Homo sapiens: one gene and its partner. The gene in region 2 interacts genetically with the main gene of each other region. Each region holds a gene or a part of one and is shown on either strand. Other genes may lie near its edges.

Evidence for each region.
Region 1: of NFKBIZ (region 2) and STAT3, changing one suppresses a phenotype caused by changing the other (phenotypic suppression), as found in Homo sapiens cells (one study listed by BioGRID).

The regions. Positions count from the first base shown.
Region 1 is NC_000017.11:42,312,813-42,315,477, forward strand, and holds the end of STAT3 (signal transducer and activator of transcription 3), read right to left. Parts: 3' UTR 512-2,665; downstream 1-511. UniProt on the Homo sapiens protein: Signal transducer and transcription activator that mediates cellular responses to interleukins, KITLG/SCF, LEP and other growth factors. Once activated, recruits coactivators, such as NCOA1 or MED1, to the promoter region of the target gene.
Region 2 is NC_000003.12:101,852,499-101,859,544, reverse strand, and holds part of NFKBIZ (NF-kappa-B inhibitor zeta), read right to left. Parts: intron 6,808-7,046; coding exon 6,777-6,807; intron 6,660-6,776; coding exon 6,556-6,659; intron 6,455-6,555; coding exon 5,682-6,454; intron 4,968-5,681; coding exon 4,862-4,967; intron 4,484-4,861; coding exon 4,337-4,483; intron 4,151-4,336; coding exon 4,087-4,150; intron 3,813-4,086; coding exon 3,643-3,812; intron 2,473-3,642; coding exon 2,362-2,472; intron 2,254-2,361; coding exon 2,086-2,253; intron 228-2,085; coding exon 174-227; 3' UTR 1-173. UniProt on the Homo sapiens protein: Involved in regulation of NF-kappa-B transcription factor complexes. Inhibits NF-kappa-B activity without affecting its nuclear translocation upon stimulation.

The sequences.
Region 1 (2,665 bases), on a different chromosome or scaffold from region 2:
TGGGGAGAAGCCCTGTGGGCGCCCGCGTAGCTGAGGTTGGGGCGCCTTTCCCTGCATTATCACCGCTGGCTGCCGGGGGCCCTGCAGCCACCACCGGGTGTCTGCGTGTTGTCCCCGCTGGGTGAACTGAAGGGAAAGTGATAAAGGAGCCAACTGTGGAAGGGGAGGCCTTGGTGCGGTGGGAGTATCTACCCCCCACCCCGCTTAGGTGGCTTATCTGACCCCAGACAGGACGAGGCCGCTCTGGGGGGTAGGAGGGGGCCGGGGAGGGAGGCCTCCACTCTGACACCTTTCTGCCGTTGGACTATTGACCTCCTGCTCCTCCAGGCACCCCTTACCTCCGGGCTGGTGGCTAACATAAGGGGGTTGGCGGGGGGGATTAAGGCAACCACCTCCTCTCAAGACCCTTTCCGGCCCTTATCCCAGGCCCCACCTGTGTGTGAGGCCCCCTCAGAACTTATGCAGGGGAAAAGGAAGCCTCCACCAGCCAAACAGAGCTGCCATGCTATCAGACGGTTCCTATATAACGTTTATTTCTGGAAGTTAAAGTAGATACAGCAATATACCAAAAAAAAAAAAAAAAAAAAAAGACAAAAAACCTCACAATAATATAAATTTTTACACTATGAAGTACACATTGGAATTTGAATGCAGTGGCCAGGACAGCAGCTTATAAACCACCTTATAGGTAGGTAAGCAACCCACGGGATTCCCTCGGCTGGGCTGGGGATGGGGAGGGGGCAGTGGACAGGAAGCGGGCAGGGCCTGAGGACCCTGTTCTTTAATGGGCCACAACAGGGCTCAGCTCCTCTCAGAACTTTTGCTACAATCAGAGTTAAGACCAGATACATGCTACCTAAGGCCATGAACTTGACAATATCTGCTCCAGAGAAGCCCTGAACCCTCGCCCTAGGTCCCTATGATTTAAACCCAATGGTAAGCCCAAGTCTCACCTTTCTAAATATTCTGTTTATCAGTTAAGCTTATTATGTACTGAAGAGTGTTGCTGGAGAAGTAAGAGCTCTGCATGACACATCAACTGTCTCCAGGCAGGAGGACTGGGGCGAACCCTGTTCATCTTAGAGAAGGTCGTCTCCCCCTTAATTCAGAGACCAGCTAATTTGATTTAACAAACAGAATTCCACAGAAACTCTGATCAGCTGAGGCAAGGTGGTTTTGAGTTGCCAAATCCGGCCATGCCTCTGAGTCAGAGGCAGCCCATCCAGCACGTGCTAGGTGTTCCCATACGCACAGGAGAGGCGAGCTAGCCAGCCAAGGCGGGCAGGCGGGGAGGCCCTCTAGCTGTTCTGCCTCACCTGTGGGGCCCCAGCAGGGAGGAGTCACCAGCCTCAGAGGGAGGCCAGGTATACACCCTCATACGAGGGCAGACTCAAGTTTATCAGTAAGCCTTTGCCCTGCATGAACTGAATGAAGACGCCATTACAAGTGCCACTGGATATCACCAAGAAACTGGCTAAGAACCATATTCCCTGAGCTCAACCAGACACGTCGCTGGGGCCCCATAGTGTGCATCATGTCCAACCTGTAACTCTCTCCCCCTCTTCTTCCATGAGGTCCTGAGACCAGGATTCCTAAAACAAACAGGATGAGGGACCTTTAGACACGCAAGGAGACATGCCTCTAGCAGGATCAGGGGGACTGGGGTCGGGAGGGTGGGGCAGGAAGGAAGCCAGAATCAGAAGTATCCCAGCCCTGATAAGGCACCCACAGAAACAACCTAGCCTCTGAAACAGCAGATCAAGTCCAGGGAGAAAGGGAGTCAAGGTTGTAAGCACCCTCTGCCCAGCCTTACTCACTAAAAGGCCAATACATTACAAAGGAAAATAAGTCTATTTATAAAAAAAAGTCTAAAATGCTTAGATTCTCCTTAAACCTTCCTATTTCAACACCAAAGGCCAGGTTGCAGCTTCAGATGTCTTAAGGGTTTGACCTGAAGCCCGTTTCAGGGATTATATAAATTACCAGCCTGAAGGAAGCTGAATGCTTAAAGCACCAAGGAGGCTGTTAACTGAAGTTTCTTTTTTTTTTTTTTTTTTTTGAGACAGAGTCTCAGACTGTCGCCCAGGATGGAGTGCAGTGTGCAGTGGTGCAATTTTGGCTCACTGCAACCTCCGCCTCTCAGGTTCAAGCGATTCTCCTGCCTCAGCCTCCCGAGTAGCTGGGACTACAGGCGCCCACCACCACACCCAGCTAATTTTTTGTACTTTTAGTAGAGACGGGGTTTCACCGTGTTAGCCAGGATGGTCTTGATCTCCTGACCTTATGATCCGCCTCGGCCTCCCAAAGTGCTGGGATTACAGGCGTGAGCCACCATGCCCGGCTGCTTAAGTTTCTTAAATACAGAAAGGCTATGCTGATACAGTGTTTTTTGCCCTTTAATTGTTATTATTTCTTAATTTAAAAAGAAACCTAGGGCTTAGATAGTCCTATCTTCTATTTGGATGTCAGCAAGGTTAAAAAGTGCAATGCCAGGAGTATGTAGCTATAGGTGGCCTGTGGCATTTGCTTACAGAAACAGGCAGAAGGATGCCGCAGGCACCAGGAGGCACTTGTCTAAGAACAACAACAACAATAACAAAAAGCTGCTGAGAAAGGAGGGCAGGGGAACAAAACAACACAAGACATTTCCTTTTTCTCCCTCTAG
Region 2 (7,046 bases):
ATATTTTTCTTCTTTTCTTTTAATATAACCCACTATATAATAGTGAACTAAATATGTTTGTTTCATAGAAACAACTTACATTTGCCAATATAAGGCAAATGGTCTATGTACAGATACATCAGGACTGCCTAACTGACAGTGAGTGTTGCTAGCCAGGCTCCAAGCTAATGGAGCTAATACGGTGGAGCTCTCTGCTGAATGGACTTTCCCTTCAGGATACGTCGGATCTGGAAGAGAAACAAATAAAATTTGTGAGGTTTATTTCTTATGGCCAATGTGGTGTATTTCCTTCTGAGTTTCATTCCTTTCTTATACCATCTACACTACTCCTATTAACTTGTAAGTATACGAAGAAATACACACAATATTTCTCAAGATTTTGAGGTGACTTTTAAAAATACTAAACTCCTTTTAAACTTATTTCAGATCTCTTATAATAATCTTTGAGTTCAAGAAAGTAAAACATCTCCACTAAAAATTATCTGAAGTTGAAAATCTCCATAAACTTAACACCTATATTCTTTTCCTAATCTTTACTCTTGCTATTTGTGAGAACATTTAACATAAGACAGTAATTAAGGCATATTATAATATCTCACTTATCTTGAAGTCAGCCTCAACTAACAGGAACAGAAAACCCACATTTTATGATACACACACAAGTAAATCCTTAATACCATTCAAGTCAAAACAGCTGTCATGATATCCAAGTATTAAAGCATCTACACGTAACTTCATGGATCACAGAAAAGATCCCGGCTCATTCAGAGTGATTCATTTTACATCCCAGTCTGACAAATTTTATTTTCTATCTCTCAGCCTCCAGCAGATTAGAAGCAACAATTTAGATGAAAGGCGATTGGGGTAGGGGATACAACTGATAGCTGCTAGAAGGAAACACACGACCACAGTATGACAATAAAAGCCAGGGAAAAGAGCCTCTACCTGCCCAACACACACAAAATACCAAAGCAAAAAGGAGATAATCTGGGAACATTTAATGAAGAGTTAAATGGCTTAATATCTCAATGATCCCTGAGAGCATAGTTATATGACTGCACACCACAAACAGTGAAGTAGAAGCAAATACTGGGCTTAGGACTCTGCCTTTTACAAGTTAATGATGGTTCTGGTCCTTGGAACCTCTCTGAATATCAATTTTCTCAGTTGAAACTTGAAACTTGTAAAGTTCTTCTAACTATTAAATGATATACATGAAAACTTTTTACAAACTATAGAAATATTCTTTCTAAATTACAAAGAGCTCTATAAATAGGGGCTACTATAACATTATGGTCATAATGACAGCTCAGAATCAAAGAAAAAGCTAAACTGCATTCCACGTATTTTATTTTGTGATTAGTAAAGTATGTAATGACCTACCCACAGCCACAATCCCCCTCATTCCTCCCAGGAAAAGAGTTCCATCAAAAACATTTTAAGTTCTTGAAAGAATAAGTTCTTGTTATCTAAAAAGTTTACTCATGAAACTATTCAATACTCAATGATAATATATAACCATATTTGATGAGTAAAGCATTAAATATGCTGTTTAAAACAAAATATTTCTAGGTTTGAAATTACATAAGTAATTTTTCCATTTTTTGTTCAGTATCACTTCATAGACAGAAATAATTCTAACTATTGATGTTCACTGATCTCTTACTCTGTACCCGGGACTATTGTGAGCACTCCACATGTAACAACTCATTTAATATCCACAATATTTGAAGGCTCATACATTACAAGACTAAGATTCTCTTTCCTTGGTATCTGCAGGAACCTTGGTATCTTCTCTTTCCGAACCTTAAACCATTCTGACTTACTCTAACCCTAAGTGTGTGTCACAGAATACTACCTGACCTCTAACCATTTTGAGTCTATGGATAATCCCTCAAATTTCTTAATTGCTGTTTCCAAACGAAGAGTAACTCCACAATGCTATGACAGCTACCGTGAGACACAGACACTGATAGAGTCCACCTGAAGAGCAACAGCTGGCCTTCGCCCTGCACAGCCTCATCTCCCTTTCTGTTTCAGACTGCAGTGCCAAAAAATACTTCCTCTCCCTCCTGTGCCTCTCACCTGTTCTCCCACAGGGCCATCGGGAACCAAATGCACTGGCTGTTCGTTCTCCAAGTTCCGAGTACTTGGGTCTGCTCCCTTCCTCATCAACAGGCGGACAGCATCTAATTGTGTCAACCGATACTGCAAGCTGGCAGCAACATGGAGGGCAGTGTTGCCATTGTAAGCCTGAAGACAAAGAAATGAATTATCAGACATCAGGAAGGGGGAAATTTCATGAAAGGAGCTCAAAAACTTTGAGAGGGTGTACAGAAGGCCATTCCAACTCTGGTGTACCTTTGCATTCACAAAAGACAGGCAACTGGGCAGCTCCAAAAAGAGGCGAATGAGTTCCAGATTTGCTTCTTCAGCTGCCAAATGCAGGGCTGTGCGGCCACTTTTGCGATCCTTGTCAAAGGCAAGAGGGAGGAAAAAAAAAAAAAAAAATCCAGATACTATGCCTCAGAATACACTTTTCACCCAGTCTCCTGAATGTCTGATTCAGCTTCAGAGACTCACTTTGAATGCTCCCTTCTCCAAAATGCCTTGCTTAATCCCAAGCTAAATGGAATCTTTTATTCCTCTTAAATTTCCTATTAATTTGTCTATATGCCTCTTGTCACAATGTACCTTTTTATACAGGGTGGCCATAAAATGTAGAAAAATAAATATTTTTAAATCCTATGTCATAACCTATCAGTAAACCATTTATTATGTATTCACCTACATTTCCAGATTTGGTAGCCTCCCTGTAGAGTTATATTTAGCTATATCTCTCACCTATTTTACTAGTCAGTAAGCCTCAAGGGTCCAAATGGTTTATGACTTAGGCATTTTTCCCCCATATACTCAGTGAATAAAACCAAAATTTTAAAAGAATAAACTATTTTCCAGCTTAAAAACCAGAAGATGAATTCCACATCCTACAACAATGAAGAAATCCTTACAAAAAGCACCTTTATTCTCAGTGTATGAAAATGGAAGCCAAAATGACAATATCAATTTCAAGCATTTTCTTTACCTTTCAAAGACTATTTATTTTATACCTAAATGACCTTTTGGATAATAATTCATGGATTTAAAGCAAATCAAGAAAACACATGAAATGATCTGTTAAAATCTGGGCTTCTTGGCCGGGCGCGGTGGCTCACGCCTGTAATCCCAGCACTTCGGGAGGCCGAGGCGGGCAGATCACGAGGTCAGGAGATCGAGACCATCCTGGCTAACATGGTGAAACCCCGTCTCTACTAAAAATACAAAAAATTAGCTGGGTGTGGTGGTAGGCACCTGTAGTCCCAGCTACTGGGCAGGCTGAGGCAGGAGAATCGCTTGAACCAGGGAGTCGGAGGTTGCAGTGAGCCAAGATCGCACCACTGCATTCCAGCCTGGGCGACACAGTGAGACTCTGTCTCAAAAAAAAAAAAAATTCTGGGCTTCTTAACCACCCATACATTGCTACTCACACCATTAATTTCAGAAAAAAAAGAAAGAAGTTTGAATCTGTACTTGGAAGCAAGGTCTTTTGCTATATAACCAGTTTCTCCCCTACCCCATCTTAAACCTTTTCTGTGAATTTACCTTCGCTTCCACCGCTGCTCCCATTTGAATTAGGCACTTAATGGTATCAACCAGACTCTTATTCTTCAGTAAAAGCTCCTGAACTTCAGGTGAATGAGGCTGTTGATTTCTCTGGAGTTCATGGACCACAGCATTGTGGGCTATGACTGCACAGTGAAGGGGAGTCAGGCCTAGAAGAAAAGTATAATCAAGCAGTGGTCAAGCATCCCATCAGGTCTTTTGGTCCTTCTATAATGACAAATGCTGAGGATGGCCTCTAACTTAACCTATAAATGGGCTCCACAAGAACTAGTAAGGCAATCTGAATATTGTCTCTTTTTGGGTCTAATTTTACCTACAGAATATTTTAGCTTTAATTACCTTCCTTCTTAGTATACTTAGCACCCTTAGACCTTATGGTTCCCCCTAAGTGGCTCTGAATCTAATAAAGTTTCAGTTGCTTACCATCATAGTTAGTTGCCTCAAGATCCACAAACTGATTACTTCCCACTGCTCCCTTCTGAATCGCCTGCAGATTTTAAAAACAGACATCTGTTAGCTACATAAGCTGCGCATATACCTATTAGAATCCCCAAGAAATGAATAAGTTAACTCAAAATAGATCATTGCAACAGGCAACCTATATCCGACTTCTAATATCCAACTCTATCTCTCTGGCCTTGCAATGATGGAAGCCTGGTTTGCTGCCTCTTACCTGAAGCACCTGGGAGTGGCCCTTCTCAGCACACACATGCAGAGGTGTTCTTCCCCAGCAGTCTGTGGTGTTCACCTGTGCCCCGATGTTCACCAGATCCTGCACAATGAGATGCTGATTGGCAGCCACTGCCACCTGAAAGGCACTCTGTGGATATCCAGAGGAAAAAAGATATTTTAAACATACAATGTTATCATAACAAGGAATATGAAACTAAACTATGACTGAGGGAAAAACCCACAGAGAGAAAATAAATCCTTTGAATAAGCAATCAGATACTGTAAGACAAGGAAACTAAAGTAAGCCTAGGGTGTGGCTTTATTACTCTCAGTGTTTGGTCAAACAGCTACAAAGTTAACATTAATAACTTCAAGGTTGATGGTAGCAAAAAGTCAACATCTCAAAGTTAATATTAACTAAACTCTCTTGATCTTGAGCTCTAAGATGATCTACACATAAGGCTGGTCATCATTCACTTCACCATGACCCCCTCTTTGCCATTTCAGACTCTGTCAAGGTCCTCACCTGTCCATTGTGCTCTTTAATATCCAGCATGTGAAGTGCATTCATCTTTCTTGCAAGAACATAGGAAAGTGCCCTTCTCCCTTGGGCAACAGCAATATGAAGGAACCTGGGGAACATGGAAAGGAAAGCGGGTGAATCACTTCTGATTTCACTAAGTTGTTCTTTTGAAAAAAAAAAAAAAATCTTCCTTTAGCCCCCTTTTTATATATTGGTACACTCAAATGAAACATTACAAAGCATAATTTGTCTTTTCTGCTACATTGATAATACACCCCAGTTGGAACAGGATGGGTTAGGCTATCAGAAATAAGAAAAAGAAGAATGTCAAGCACCATACTGATCAACTTAAATCTATTATTTTTAATACTCATAAAACCCCTATACAAGAGGTATTATCATTTTACACGTCAAGGAACTGAGACCTAAGGAGGTTAAATAACTTGCCCAAGGCCACAAAGACATCAGGACAGATTAAGATCAATCTACAAACCAACTCACAGTTTATCCCTAATCATGATCTAACTGTTTCTGTTCTATAGACATAGTCTACGCTGGTCTTCCAAACTCAATTAATCAAGAAGATACAGATATTTTTATCAATTTAGAACAGATTATCTGTTCAGCCAAAAAATTTTTTGAAGGAAAACCCTTTCTTGACATACTAGCTATCACTGAGTGGCGGTTTCTATCTACACCAGTCATCTTGGTTAGCCAACCACTAACTAAGGTATACCTTGTTATACCCTAGAAAAATTATATGCTCACTAGTCCAACAAGTGTGGCTTACCTAATTAAGAACATGAGATAAAAGAATACTCACGTGTCACCATCTGCATCCTTTGAAAGAAACTGGTCTTGGGAAATATTTGCCAATTTGCTTTCTTCCTGCTCCACCTGCCACTGAAAAAGTGATTTCCCTAACTGTGTGGTGTTCATTGGATTTCCCATGTTTGAGAATGGCAGTGAAGTGTTTGAAGAGTCAGAGGCCATCTCGTGCCCCACCATGGCCTCACAGGCGCTGCTGGGCATCATGCTGAAGCTGTGCAAGTGAGCATCATTTTGCTGCTGAACACTGGAGGAAGTCTGCATGGGATTAGCAATATTCTCAGATTCCCTTTGATCACCAAGAAGGGAAACTAAGCTTTGGTTTGGGCAAAACTGTGATTCTGGACCATCAAAGAGGTTTGGTTCATAAGCGGGGGACTGGGGAGGTATGGGAAAAGGACTGTATTCCAGAGTTGGTTTGTGGGTGTAGTGTGGCTGCTGCTCTACATGCTGGTTCTGTGGAGAATACTGGTACAGGGAAGCCTGGTCTATCATTTGTTGGGAGCCCCTGACTTGGAATGGTTGGCATTTCTGAGGTGGAGAAAAGACCTGCCCTCCATGGAAGTCCTGACACTGCTCTGCGGGGGAGCTCTGAGGGACCACCACGGGGTTCAGCCAGCTAACTTGAACTGTGTTCAGGGAAACGGGGCTGCATTCATTCTTAATGTTGATAATGTTCTGAAGCAGATCAGCACTGCTCTCCTGTTTGGGTTCATTGAGATGAACATCTTCCATGCTCTCCCCGGGCGTTGGTGTTTGAGGTGGTGTCTGGAAAGAAGGAAAATGCAACTTGCACACTCACTTCCTTCTAAAATTATCCCAGGAATAATTTCCAAAGGATAGTCAGAGGAAAATGGTGAGATACTTACCAAAAATTGGGAATGCAACAGAGCTGGCCTTTTGCAAGCAGGTCCATCAGACAACGAATCGGGCCCTTTCCTTTTCCCACTGTATGATACTGTGTTCTTCAATTCTGTACCCAAAGGAATACAGCCTCTGTCATCATTTTATTTTATAAATGTTACCCATAATTACACTCTATTATTTACTCCAAAGCCCTGAAAAAATTACAAATACAAGTAACTCTTACCTCTGAACTGTTCTATGTTCACACCTTGTGTCTATAAAGAAAAAAGTTTCCAATTTAGTGTATACAAAATGACTTCCTCTTAATATACATCAGTAAGTAGGCTTATCTCTACCACCCTTTATAGCTTACCATAAATCTCTGATATGGTTTTTCTATCAATATTGATTTTCTATATCAATTTTTATTCTATCTTGCGACTTCCTCATTTTCACTTTCACCTTAGCTCAACGCAGGTCAAGATGAAATTAATAAGACCATTTGATTTTTCCC